Linked DNA regions of Homo sapiens. The protein of the gene in region 2 purifies or fractionates together with the protein of the main gene of each other region. This does not show direct contact. Each region holds a gene or a part of one and is shown on either strand. Other genes may lie near its edges.

The links.
Region 1: the proteins of SLC16A4 (region 2) and NCAM1 purify together in Homo sapiens (affinity purification with mass spectrometry; one large-scale study listed by BioGRID and IntAct). This does not show direct contact.
Region 3: the proteins of SLC16A4 (region 2) and AKR1A1 purify together in Homo sapiens (affinity purification with mass spectrometry; one large-scale study listed by BioGRID and IntAct). This does not show direct contact.

The regions. Positions count from the first base shown.
Region 1 is NC_000011.10:113,230,194-113,234,130, forward strand, and holds part of NCAM1 (neural cell adhesion molecule 1 isoform 2 precursor), read left to right. Parts: intron 1-1,002; coding exon of another isoform or gene 1,003-1,080; intron 1,081-1,451; coding exon 1,452-1,602; intron 1,603-1,976; coding exon 1,977-2,161; intron 2,162-2,524; coding exon 2,525-2,621; intron 2,622-2,953; coding exon 2,954-3,124; intron 3,125-3,937.
Region 2 is NC_000001.11:110,384,527-110,388,463, reverse strand, and holds part of SLC16A4 (monocarboxylate transporter 5), read left to right. Parts: intron 1-3,937. UniProt on the Homo sapiens protein: Proton-linked monocarboxylate transporter.
Region 3 is NC_000001.11:45,557,100-45,561,036, forward strand, and holds part of AKR1A1 (aldo-keto reductase family 1 member A1), read left to right. Parts: intron 1-3,937. UniProt on the Homo sapiens protein: Catalyzes the NADPH-dependent reduction of a wide variety of carbonyl-containing compounds to their corresponding alcohols.

The DNA.
Region 1 (3,937 bases), on a different chromosome or scaffold from region 2:
GTGTTCCACACCTGTTTGTTGTCATCTCTCATTAATGTGTGGCATCTCCTGGGATGCATCTTTCAACCAACCAGCATCCCAGATTTATAGGTCAAAGCAGAGGATCAGAGAACTCATCCCAGGGAGGAATGGCACTTGCAGAAATGGGCAGCCATGACTTTGCTTGACTCTTCTGTCTTCTTGCTAGAGTTGTTTTTTAGCTTCCAGACATGAAATGCATTGGGGCTCAGATGACCGGAATAGGCTAGATCTGTCAGTGATGGTCCAAGGGACTTTTCATTGGTAAATCTGCTGAGACTGCTGAACAAGGCTAGTGATGCCTTGCTTGTGAGCTTCCTAATCTGGCTGCTGTATGACATTGCAATTCTGGGCTTCAGGGCCCCAAACCAGCATATCCAAAGAACCTGAAGCCAATTGTTCTGTCATTCTTTAAAGACCCAACGCATGGGATGGCAGATGCCAGGTGCAGAATATAACCTCCTGTCCATCCCTACAGAACATCATATACTGGAGACAAGAGGGCCCAGCCTACCCAGAACAAGACCCTTTCTCCAGATCACTAACTTTCTTGAGGATCTGAAGTTAAGCCACATGCCTAGACTCTTCCTGGGCCAGCAACCATTTTACTTAGAATGTCAAGGGGAAATCCCCTTGGAAATACTCCAGTACCCATTGCCTAAGGACTATGTGCTTATTCTCTTTTTGACCAATCATTATAATTCCAGAGATTTAGGAAGCCCATTGCTGTATCAAGGACTATAAAATGGTGGTGGCCAAGGTGTCAAGGATCCCAGACCTGCCTAGGACTCTCTGTGCCATTGTCCCTGGAGAGAGAACCCAGTTACTCTCACTTCCAGTGCAGTGGCTCCTGATCTTTGAGTTGTTTGGCTTGTTTTTACATGTGATTATTTCACTTTTAAACATCCAGGAAAGAGGCATCTGCAGAAATAAGGATTTCTTTAATAATTTCTTATGTTGGGCACTTGGAATGTCCTGCCACAGGTACATGCACCATGGAACTGGCAAGTGGGCAGACAGAAAGGACAGGCTGGCAGTGCAGGTTTCCCAGGATCTCATGAGGTAGGGCTGCTGCTGCTGCTGCTGCAATATCTGCTGGCCGGAGGCTTTGCTTCCATTTTAGACATCCCAAACAAAGTCATCTTGGGGGACCTAGCCCCAAACCAATCTTGGTACTTAGATCAGGCTGCCTGACATAACTGAGTCTCATTTTCTGTTTCGGATACTCCCAGGTTCTCATGCTGCTTCCCAGTGCCTCCCCCATTAGATGGTACCTAAAGTAAGAAAGCCATTGACACAGAGAGGAGAGAGGAAGTGAGACGGGTCACAGACAAGTGATGGCCTAGTCTCCCAGCCCCCATCCTGCCATAGCACTGTTGCCCTTCACCCTGCCTTGGGCTCTGACATGCTCCCTTCCCCCCCACCCCCGGCAGACTCTGGATGGGCACATGGTGGTGCGTAGCCATGCCCGTGTGTCGTCGCTGACCCTGAAGAGCATCCAGTACACTGATGCCGGAGAGTACATCTGCACCGCCAGCAACACCATCGGCCAGGACTCCCAGTCCATGTACCTTGAAGTGCAATGTAAGGAATAAATGGGGAAGGACCTGGGGGAGGGAGGGGCAAGGCAGGGTCAGGATGAGAGAGGAAAACATCAGCAAGGACCTATGTGCACCCTGTGTGTTCTGCTTACGTTCCCTGCAGCTGACCCTGGGCTATTTCAGAGCTCTGTTCCCAAGCCACCCCCTACACACCATCTCCAGGCTTCTTACAAGCCTGCTGTGCCCTTGAGTCTTCTTCCCATGCTGTGCACAGGAATTCTAGAATGGCCCTGACCTCTACTATACCAGGCGCTGGCTCTGCTTTGGAGCACACCTGCCTTCCCAGTGCCAGGAGACAGGATATGGGGGCTTCATAATCATGGCAGTCATCCTGACAGTCATTGTTATTTATTGCAGATGCCCCAAAGCTACAGGGCCCTGTGGCTGTGTACACTTGGGAGGGGAACCAGGTGAACATCACCTGCGAGGTATTTGCCTATCCCAGTGCCACGATCTCATGGTTTCGGGATGGCCAGCTGCTGCCAAGCTCCAATTACAGCAATATCAAGATCTACAACACCCCCTCTGCCAGCTATCTGGAGGTGAGTCAGGATGGGGGTGGGACAGAGCAGAGAAAGCACAGTTTGACTCTAGGTGGGCTCCAAAATGCAGCTCAAGTCCTCTCTCCTGCTTCTCTGGCACATCCTGAGCAGGGAAGGCATGGGCTAGAGAAGACACTGAGCCTCTTTTCAGCTCCCCTTCGCCCACTCTACCAGTCCCCTCCCTGAATGTGCCTCTCCCATGAGCCCCTCTGCTATTCTTTTCTCTTGTTTAAGGCTGGGCTGGAGCTAATGATTTATACTTTACTAGTTCTGTTTTTTACTAACTTAATTCAGTAAATAAAGATCTGAGTCTGTGACCATCCCATAGGACACTTGTAACCCAATAGCTTCTTCCTTCTAAAGGTGACCCCAGACTCTGAGAATGATTTTGGGAACTACAACTGTACTGCAGTGAACCGCATTGGGCAGGAGTCCTTGGAATTCATCCTTGTTCAAGCAGGTGAGTGTCCCTTACTCACCTGAGAGCAGCTGCCACAACCCCCCACCTAACCCTGCCAGCCCAATTTGTGTACTTGAGTGATTCCAGGATATTGGGAAGAAGAAAGGGCCAGGGTCAGCAAAGCCAGAGAGTTGGGAAGCTGGGAGCCATTGGATCAGCGCATGGGGCATGTTGGGGGAGAAGCATCTGGTGAGATGGGCCAGGAGGACAGGATACAGTGACAGGATTCCCAAGAGTGAGCAGAAATGACAGAGATGTGCCTTGTGACTGAGAGTTAATGGTCTTGGGCCAAACTGGGCTCACCTGAGTCTCCATATGTGTCTTCCCCACAGACACCCCCTCTTCACCATCCATCGACCAGGTGGAGCCATACTCCAGCACAGCCCAGGTGCAGTTTGATGAACCAGAGGCCACAGGTGGGGTGCCCATCCTCAAATACAAAGCTGAGTGGAGAGCAGTTGGTGAAGAAGTATGGCATTCCAAGTGGTATGATGCCAAGGAAGGTGAGTTGGGCGAGTTGGTGTTTCCATTGGGATCATGAGTGCCTCAGTACTCAGATGTCCCCACCTGCCATCCTGGGCATGTTCCTACAGAATCAGGAACTGCACCTCCAGAATTAGGTCAAAGTCATATCTGCCTGTAGAGTTGTTGCCCCTATTGCCACCCCAACCCATGCTCTGTGCTTCAGAGCCTGGTTCTCATGACCCTTCCAGTATGGATGAAGGCATCTGTACCACATTCCAGGCAGGAACCTTGTGTAGGTTCTGAGCGCAGCCAGATGAGTCCAGCCCATAGGTTCTGAGCATGGCCAGATGAGTCTAATCCATCCTACTCTGCACGTTTGAGTTACCTGTGCTGCAGGTTCTCTGCCGACACCCGGCCAGTCCTGCTTGGATATCTGTACTCAGGGACTGGCTGTCTTGTAATTGTGATAGTAACCAAATAAGCACAGCCAGCAGGACAAGTCTGCCCTTAAATCAGTCCTGTGCTAGCTTTCCAAGCTAAAGATTAAAAGACTGACCCTTGGATTACTGCAGTGTGAAGATTCTGAGCCCAGATCATCTGAGGATAATGTGTGCTTATGTTGGACTCCCCTTTTTGGGTTTAATTGGAATAACTCAGTGAAGTATGTTTTGTTTCTGTACAAATTTTTAATCCTGGTCTCGTATGTGGTAATTCGAGTGGAATTGGAAGTAGGCTGGGATATCAGTATCACAGCCATTCAGAGACATAGTCCAGTGCAGTTTCACTCAGAATTAGTTCTGCCAGAAAGTTTCCATCACTTCTTCAGCTTCTCGGGGGAGCCAGGGGGCCGA
Region 2 (3,937 bases):
CTGTTTGGCCTGCTGTCTACTTCCCAATCCATCCCCACTAACTATAGTTTATGCTATCTATATTTCCGATGTGTTTGGAAAGGGAGGACAAGGATTTTGAAGGGGGAGCCTGATTCTTCTCCTTTACCCATAAGCAACTAGACGAGGCATTCCATTTTTTAAATTAACTTCTTTCCCTCACCCTCCCAGGGGTTGAGGTGTGAGAGTGGTGATCTGCATCATCAGCATGCCCATTCCAGAATGTTGGTGAACCCCAGCTATGCCCCACACAGCTCTCCAGAGAGTGGCACCAGCTGCACAATTCTTAAGTGTTTCCAGAGTTCTATTAACTTTGAGATGCACTCAAAAAAAAACACCCTTTTCTTGCCGACACTTCCCCCCTACTCAGCCCTACAGTAAGCAGCTCACGGGGAAAGGTAGCACAGGTCTTGGTGCCTTCTAATAATCCTATAGTTCACATGCAGATATCTAAGAATTCTACAAATAGGATGGTGGGAAAACATCAGGCCTCCTCCCTCGTGCTAGACAAGATAGGGGCAGAGGTCCCCAGCCAGGATTTATGTAATACAAAACTCTTAACACATAATAGTAGTACTTGCTAAACATTAGCTTCAGTACTAAACAATCTCATTTTCCCCCTAGAAATGTTACTAATAGGGAAACTAAAGGATGCCCTAAGTCTGAGAGCCCTTCCTGGGGCTGGGCCACCCCCCTAAATCATAGGCTTTGCAGAATAGGCACTGTTGGTGAGGATCTCTAATTCTCCTGCCTTTCTCCCCAGTAACCACCCTGACTTTTTCTACATTATCCTCTGAGGATAGAATGGTTTTTGATCAATTTAGTTGCTGATAGGAAAAACCATCTAATAACCAGATTAATAAACACTGTCCCACTTTTAGGGTGTGATACTGCTTACTAAGCACAAAAAATGCACTGGATCCTCAAAATGTTAACAATAAATTCAGGGGCTAATCCCCCACAGTTGTAATGTGGATACTTGAATGACTGTGCTTTTGTTTCTGTATGACTTACAACTGTTCTTTTCTATAACAGATGAGCTCCTAGTAAGTGAAAAATAACAATGTTCTTTGGGAGCTTCCTACTTAAAAAAAGAGAGAGAGATTCATTCTAACCAACTTACCACACTTTATATATTTGTATGACTGTTTTCTGTATTCAGTCTGTCTTACTAGACTGAATGTTCCATGGGGGCAGGGTCTATGTCTGCATTGCTCATGAGTATATGCTCATTACCGTAAGCCCAGTGCCAGTATACAGCCTGGAACATAGTAGGCACTCAGTAAAATACTGTTGGTGGATGGATAGATGGATGGATGAATTGATAGCTGCACACATTTATGAATAAACAAATAAGGATGAAGGGGATAGTTGATGAAACTGAAGAGATGAGAATGGCTCTTGAGGCTATGAGAAGCTAATGAGAAAAATTAAGCAGGGATGTGATAGATTTGCATTTCAGAGAAATGTGACGAGCAGATGCTACTGAGAGGTCAAATAGGAGAGAAATAACAAGACTCTATTGGTTTAGCAACAAAGAAATCTAATAACCTTGATAAGAGCTAGTACAGTGGAGCAGTGGGGGCCAAAGTTAGTGAACTTTAGTTTTCAGTGGAGTAGCAGAATGACAGAAAGTGGAGATACCTAATAGACCATTTTTTACAGAAGTTTGCCTGTGAAGGTCAGGAGGAGCTAGGGTGATACTAGAAAAGGACGCAGGATAAGAAGTTGTTATTAGATAAAACTAACTCTGACAAAGCCTGGTGCCTGTATTGAAAATAAGTCACTGAGGCTGATCCAACTCCTTTCCCAGACAATAATTAAAATGATCTAGTGAGGAAGCTCTTATTGGAGGTGGGGTGTGGGGGAAGTCCTGCTTAAGGTGTTCCTGCCAGGTTCAACCCAATTAACTGCTCTTAAAAACAAAAAGAAAATGAGGGGACTGGAGAAGTTCTAGGGTTTTTGCTTTATTTTGGAGTGAGCCATTTACAATGTATGACGTGGACTCTGGTAACAGAACTAAAACCCACCAAGCTTGGTCTAAGACATGGGATTATGTAGAATAATGCAGATTTATGTAGTCTGCTAAATTAACTAAGGAAAAACCTAGACCTTGGGAGAGATTTTTAATATCTTTGAGTCAAAACTGAAACAAAGTTGGAAGACTTCAAGTTAAGGGACGGGAAGCATGGTAGGTGCAAAGGCTCTGCCCTTGGTCTTCTTGATACATAGTGGACACGGACTCAGTTATTAGAGACAAGTCCTAACCATTCACTGCTGCTACACGCAGACACCAAGGACAGACCAGAGATGAAAAGCTCTGAACTGGGGGACCAGTAGCTAGCTAAATTTAGGTAGCTAAGAATATAGAGGTCAACATCCTCTAGACACCAGCACAGAACCCACGTCCATAGAACAAAAGGAAGTTTACTTTACAGAATGATGCACTGTATTATTCCTTGCTCATGAGAGGACACAATCATCACATTATTATGAACTGAGAGAAGAAAGTCTAAGTCATTTGAGATCTGTGTATATTTTCTAACCTAATTTCTAGCCTGACAGAAGTGCCTTAGAGGAAAATTATGGTTATAAATTGCCTCAATGGGGGCCTGATAAAATGTCTTTTTAACTTTTGAATATATAGTCCTGGCGTTTATAGCACTCTTCATTCTAAATAAGTTTTGTTCCTTTTATCAAATCAGAATGGGAAAAAGTATATTAAGAGACTTCTTCCTCACCACTACCACTTTTGCAATTTCTGAGCATCGCCAGTAGTGATGGGGTGAAAAGAAGGGGGCAGGTCTTGACCATTATTTAAAAGCAGGGGCTGAGGGAGGGAGGTGTCTAAGAGAAAGCACATCTGTCACTCAAATGAATGGGTGGATGGTACCAATAGAAAAAACTGAAAAGAGTAGGCATAGGATAAGGGAAATGTGAGTTTATGTTTGGACAAGTTGACCAGAAGTTATAAAGATATGGTAGACAATTAGGAGTCTGAAGCTCTTGGGAAAGCAGAATGGAAACCACAGTTAATTGTTTGAGTGTTAAGTGCCAAATATTAAGTACTTTATCAGAATTTTCTCAATTAATCTTCACAGTCTTATGAGCTAGGTAATATTTTCATCCCCAATGCCGCCTCCCCCATCATAAAAGCGGAAGCTTAACCCATGTGACGTGCGAAGTTGTTTGCCCAAGGTCACGCCCCAGTAGGAAGAACAGCCTGGATGCAAGTTAAGGCAGACTGATTGCAGAACCCTGTTCAGCTACACCACCATAAGTATGCAGGTGGTAATTAAAACCTTGAGAGTAAATGATTGTCCAGGGAGCAGATATCAAGCGAGATGAGTACAGAACTGTAACAGGCGGGCCGAGAAAGTGGAATTAATGAAGGGGAACCTAAGGCTTTGTGGTTCTTTTATTATTATTAATTTTGAGACAAGGTCTCACTGTCGCCCAGGCTGGAGTGCAGTAGTGTGATCACAACTCACCGTACCCTCGACCTCCCAGGTTCAGGTGTTCCTCCCACCTCACCCTCCCAGGTAGCTGGGACTACAGGTGTTATACCACTACGCCCAGCTAATTTTTTGTACTTTTTGTAGAGACGGGGTTTCGCCATGTTGCCCAGGCTGGTCTTGAACTCCTGGGCTCAAGCGATCCACCCACCTCGGCCTCCCAAAGTACTAGGATTATAGGCAGGAGCCTCCATGCCCAGCTGGTTTTGTGGTTCATAAGCAATGCATGGCCAGGTTGAAAGCAGAAGTGGCCTTGAAAAGCCAACGCTACGAAACCCCTGGAGACAGAGAGTACACCTGGGCTTTACGAGTGAATGCAAACCCTGGCTAGGTTCCCCTCTAGACCCCTGTGGGATAAAGCATGACTGTTACTTAAAAACGGAAAGAAGGAATAGCACTTAACA
Region 3 (3,937 bases), about 65 Mb from region 2:
GAATCGCTTGAACCCAGGAGGTGGAGGTTGCAGTGAGCCAAGATCGCGCCATTGCACCCCAGCCTGGGTGACAAGAATGAAACTCTATCTCAAAAAAATAAAAATAAAAAAGATAACATGAGGGTTTCTGAATGCTGCCAAAGGTCCAGATAGGCAGTTCCTGACAAGCTCAGAGTCTGGAATCTGTTCACGCACAGCTAGGCTGGAAAGCAGTTGTATCAAGCAGAAGATGAGGAAGTCAAGAGCTGGCCGAGGATGATTTTCTGTCCTAGAGAAAAACATCTATGTGGCACCTTCATTCTTCCCTAGGGAGCTCTTGTTCTTTGCAGATCTCCTCCATCTTTCATCCCTGTTCCCCAAGCCTCAGCCTTTTCGGTGTTCAGTTTCACCAGCAAAAGAAAGGGAGAAGCAAGATTCAGGTTTCTTCTTCCTTTTCCCCTTAAGCCAGGGTGTTGTTCAAGCTCTCACCCCAGGTGTAATTTCAGAGCCTTCTCATGCGTGCTGGGTAATCTGCGAGAGGCCAACAGGTCATTGGGCATTAAGCCCAGGAAACCTGCCTTAGACCCTGGTGGCAGCAGGCCACCAGGTTCCTCTTGTCAAGTCCAGACTTGCTTGCTTGATCCCTTGGAAATTTGATTATAAAGAGCATTGCCCTGGTAGCTTGTGGTTTGACACTCAGATTGAAGTTTTGATTTTGTTTTAGCAGAAAAGAGTGGTTTCCAAAACCAACTTAAACTAGACTATAAAATTCTTCCTGGGTCAGAAGTATTAGGAAAGACAGTGTTGGTGTACTGGCTTTACTCACAACTTGTCTTTTTTTTTTTTTTTGAGATGGAGCCTCACTCTGTATCCCAGGCTGGAGTGCAGTGGCATGATCTCAGCTCACTGCAACCTCTGCCTCCTGGGTTCAAGCGATTCTCCTGCCTCAGCCACCCGAGTAGCTGGGATTAAGGTGTGCACCACCATGTCCAGCTAATTTTTGTATTTTTAGTAGAGAGGGGGTTTCGCCTTGTTGGCCAGGCTGGTCTCGAACTCCTGACCTCAAGTCTTAAGTGATCTGCCTGCCTCGGCCTCCCAAAGTGCTGGGGTTACAGACGTTAGCCACTGTACCCAGCCTCAACTTGTCTTATTATTATTATTATTTTTTGAGACAGGGTCTCGCTCTGTTACCCAGACTGGAGTGCAGTGGCACTATATCAGCTCACTGCAACCTCCGCCTCCCGGGTTCAGGTGATTCTCATGTCTTGGCCTCCCAAGTAGCTGAGATTACAGGCATGTGCCACCACGCCCAGCTAATTTTTTTTTTTTTTTTTTTTTGAGATGGAGTCTTGCTCTGTCACCCAAGCCGGAGTGCAGTGGCTCAATCTCGGCTCACTGCAACCTCCACCTCCCGAGTTCAAGCGATTCCTCCTGTCTCAGCCTTCTGAGTATCTGGGACCACAGGCATGTGCCACCATGCCCGGCTAATTTTTGTATTTTTAGGAGAGACGGGGTTTCACCATGTTGGTCAGGCTGGTCTCGAACTCCTGACCTCGTGATCTGCCCTCCTCGGCCTCCCAAAGTGCTGGGATTACAGGTGTAAGCCACCAAACCCGGCCTAATTTTTGTATTTTCAGTAAAGATGGGGTTTCGCCATGTTGGCCAGGCTGGTAATACCCTGACCTCAGGTGATCCGTCGCATCGGCCTTCCAGAGTGCTAGGATTACAGGTGTGAGCCACCACTCCTGGCCACAGCTTGTCTTATTACTTGCTCTATCCTACATCCTTTTAGAACCTGGAAACTAAGATTATATTTATAAAGATATTGTTGGCAATTAAATCAATCCCAAGAGTGATATTCATGGTACTGATGAGATCAAGGGAAAAGGTTGTATCTACCTCATTGGCTCTTGGTGTGAACATTCTCTCTCCTTTTCTTTCACTTGAATAGCTCCTGTTCAGTTATTCTTTAGGACTTGACTCAGGAAGAGATTCCTCCAAGAAGCCATCCTAGCAAGGTTACCCTTTTCTTGCCACCCTTGTGCAGCTCTTGTGCAGAATTTGATCAAAGCTCTTATCACAGTGTACTGATATCACCTGTTCCCATTACAAGACCATAAACTGAAGGAAGGCAGTTTAAATATTTAAATACATTTTTCTCTTGGGTTTAGCACAAGAGTTGGAACATTCAATTTACTGACAAAACGAGTATTCTTGGGCCATTTGGTGACCTCTTATTTGCATAGCTTTCCAGAGGGGGAGGCTCCAGTTACCTGCTTTGTTTGGTTGGAAATTTACTTGTATCTGTAATTAGTTACTTTTCTGCTGCACTGAAGTCATGTGTATAGTTTCCTTTCCTGGAAAGAGTTCTTCCCCTTAACTCTTGGGAATTCTTAAAAACCAGTGTCAATATTTCTTTGTCCTTGCCCTTTTCTGTAGTACATCATACTTGTGTCTACCATGAGTATCTTTTTATAGGTCTGTGTTTATTTGCCTTTTTTCCATTAGCTCCTCCTTAGATCCTTGGTTTTGCCACTTCTTTTCTCTTTTCTTTTCTTTTTTTTTTTTTTTTTTTTTTTTTTTGAGACGGAGTCTCCCTCTGTCACCCAGGCTGGAGTGCAGTGGCATGATCTCAGCTCACTGCAACCTCCGCCTCCCGGGTTCAAGCAATTCTCCTGCCTCAGCCTCCCAAGTAAGTAGCTGGGATTATAGGCACCCGCCACCATGCCCGGCTAATTTTTCTATTTTTAGTAGAGACGGGGTTTCGCTATGTTGACCAGGGCTGGTCTCGATCTCTTGACCTTGTGATCCGCCCACCTCAACCTCCCAAAGTGCTGGGATTACAGGCGTGAGCCACTGTGCCCAGCCAGTTTTGCCACTTCTTAGCTGTTGATTTGGAGCAAATAACTTCACTTTTTTTTTTTTTTGAGATGGAGTCTGGCTGTGTCGCCCAGGCTGGAGTGCAGTGGCGCAATCTTGGCTCACTGCAACCTCCGCCTCCCGGGTTCAAACGATTCTCCCGCCTCAGCCTCCATAGCTGGGACTACAGGTGCATGCCACCACGCCTAGCTAATTTTTGTATTTTTTGGTAGAAATGGGGTTTCACTCTGTTGGCCAGGCTGGTCTCTAACTTTTGACCTCAAGTGATTTGCCTGCCTTGGCCTTCCTATGTGCTTGTATTACAGGTGTGAGGCACAGCGCCCGGTCTAACTTCACTTCTTTGAGCCTATTTTCTCAACTAAAAAATTAAAGATCTGGATATGGTGGCTCATACCTGTAATCCCAGCAACTCAGGGTGCTGAAGTGGCTGGATAGCTTGAGGTCAGAAGTTCAAGACCAGCCTGGGCAACCTAGCCAGAACCATCTCTAAAAAAGTTTAAAAACATCCAGGTGTGCTGGCACAGGCCTGTAGTCCCAGCTACTTGGAAGGGTGAGGCAGGAATATCACTTGAGCTTAGGAGTTCAAGGCTGCAGTGAGCCATGATCACACCACTGTTCTCCAACCTAGGAGACAGAACCAGACCCTGAGTCTAAAAAAGAGTTCCTTTTTTAGGACTCCCTTTACCTCCCTTGCAGGAGCCCACTCGGGCCTACCAGCATGGCTGACCAGACCTCTGTGAAAGGTACTTGGAGAATCTCTGCAGTTCTTTTTTTTTTTTTTTTTTTTGAGACAAAGTCTCGCTCTGTTGCCCAGGCTGGAGTGCAGTGGTGCAATCTAAGCTCACTGCAACCTCCGCCTCCTGGGTTCAAGTGATTCTCCTGCCTCAGCCTCCCAGGTAGCTGGGACTACAGGCACCCGCCACCACGCCTGGCTAATTTTTTGTATTTTTAGTAGAGATGGTCTTTCACTGAGTTAGCCAGGATGGTCTCGATCTCCTGACCTCGTGATCCACCCGCCTCGGCCTCCCAAAGTGCTGGGATTACAGGCGTGAGCCACCGTGCCTGGCCGAGAATCTCT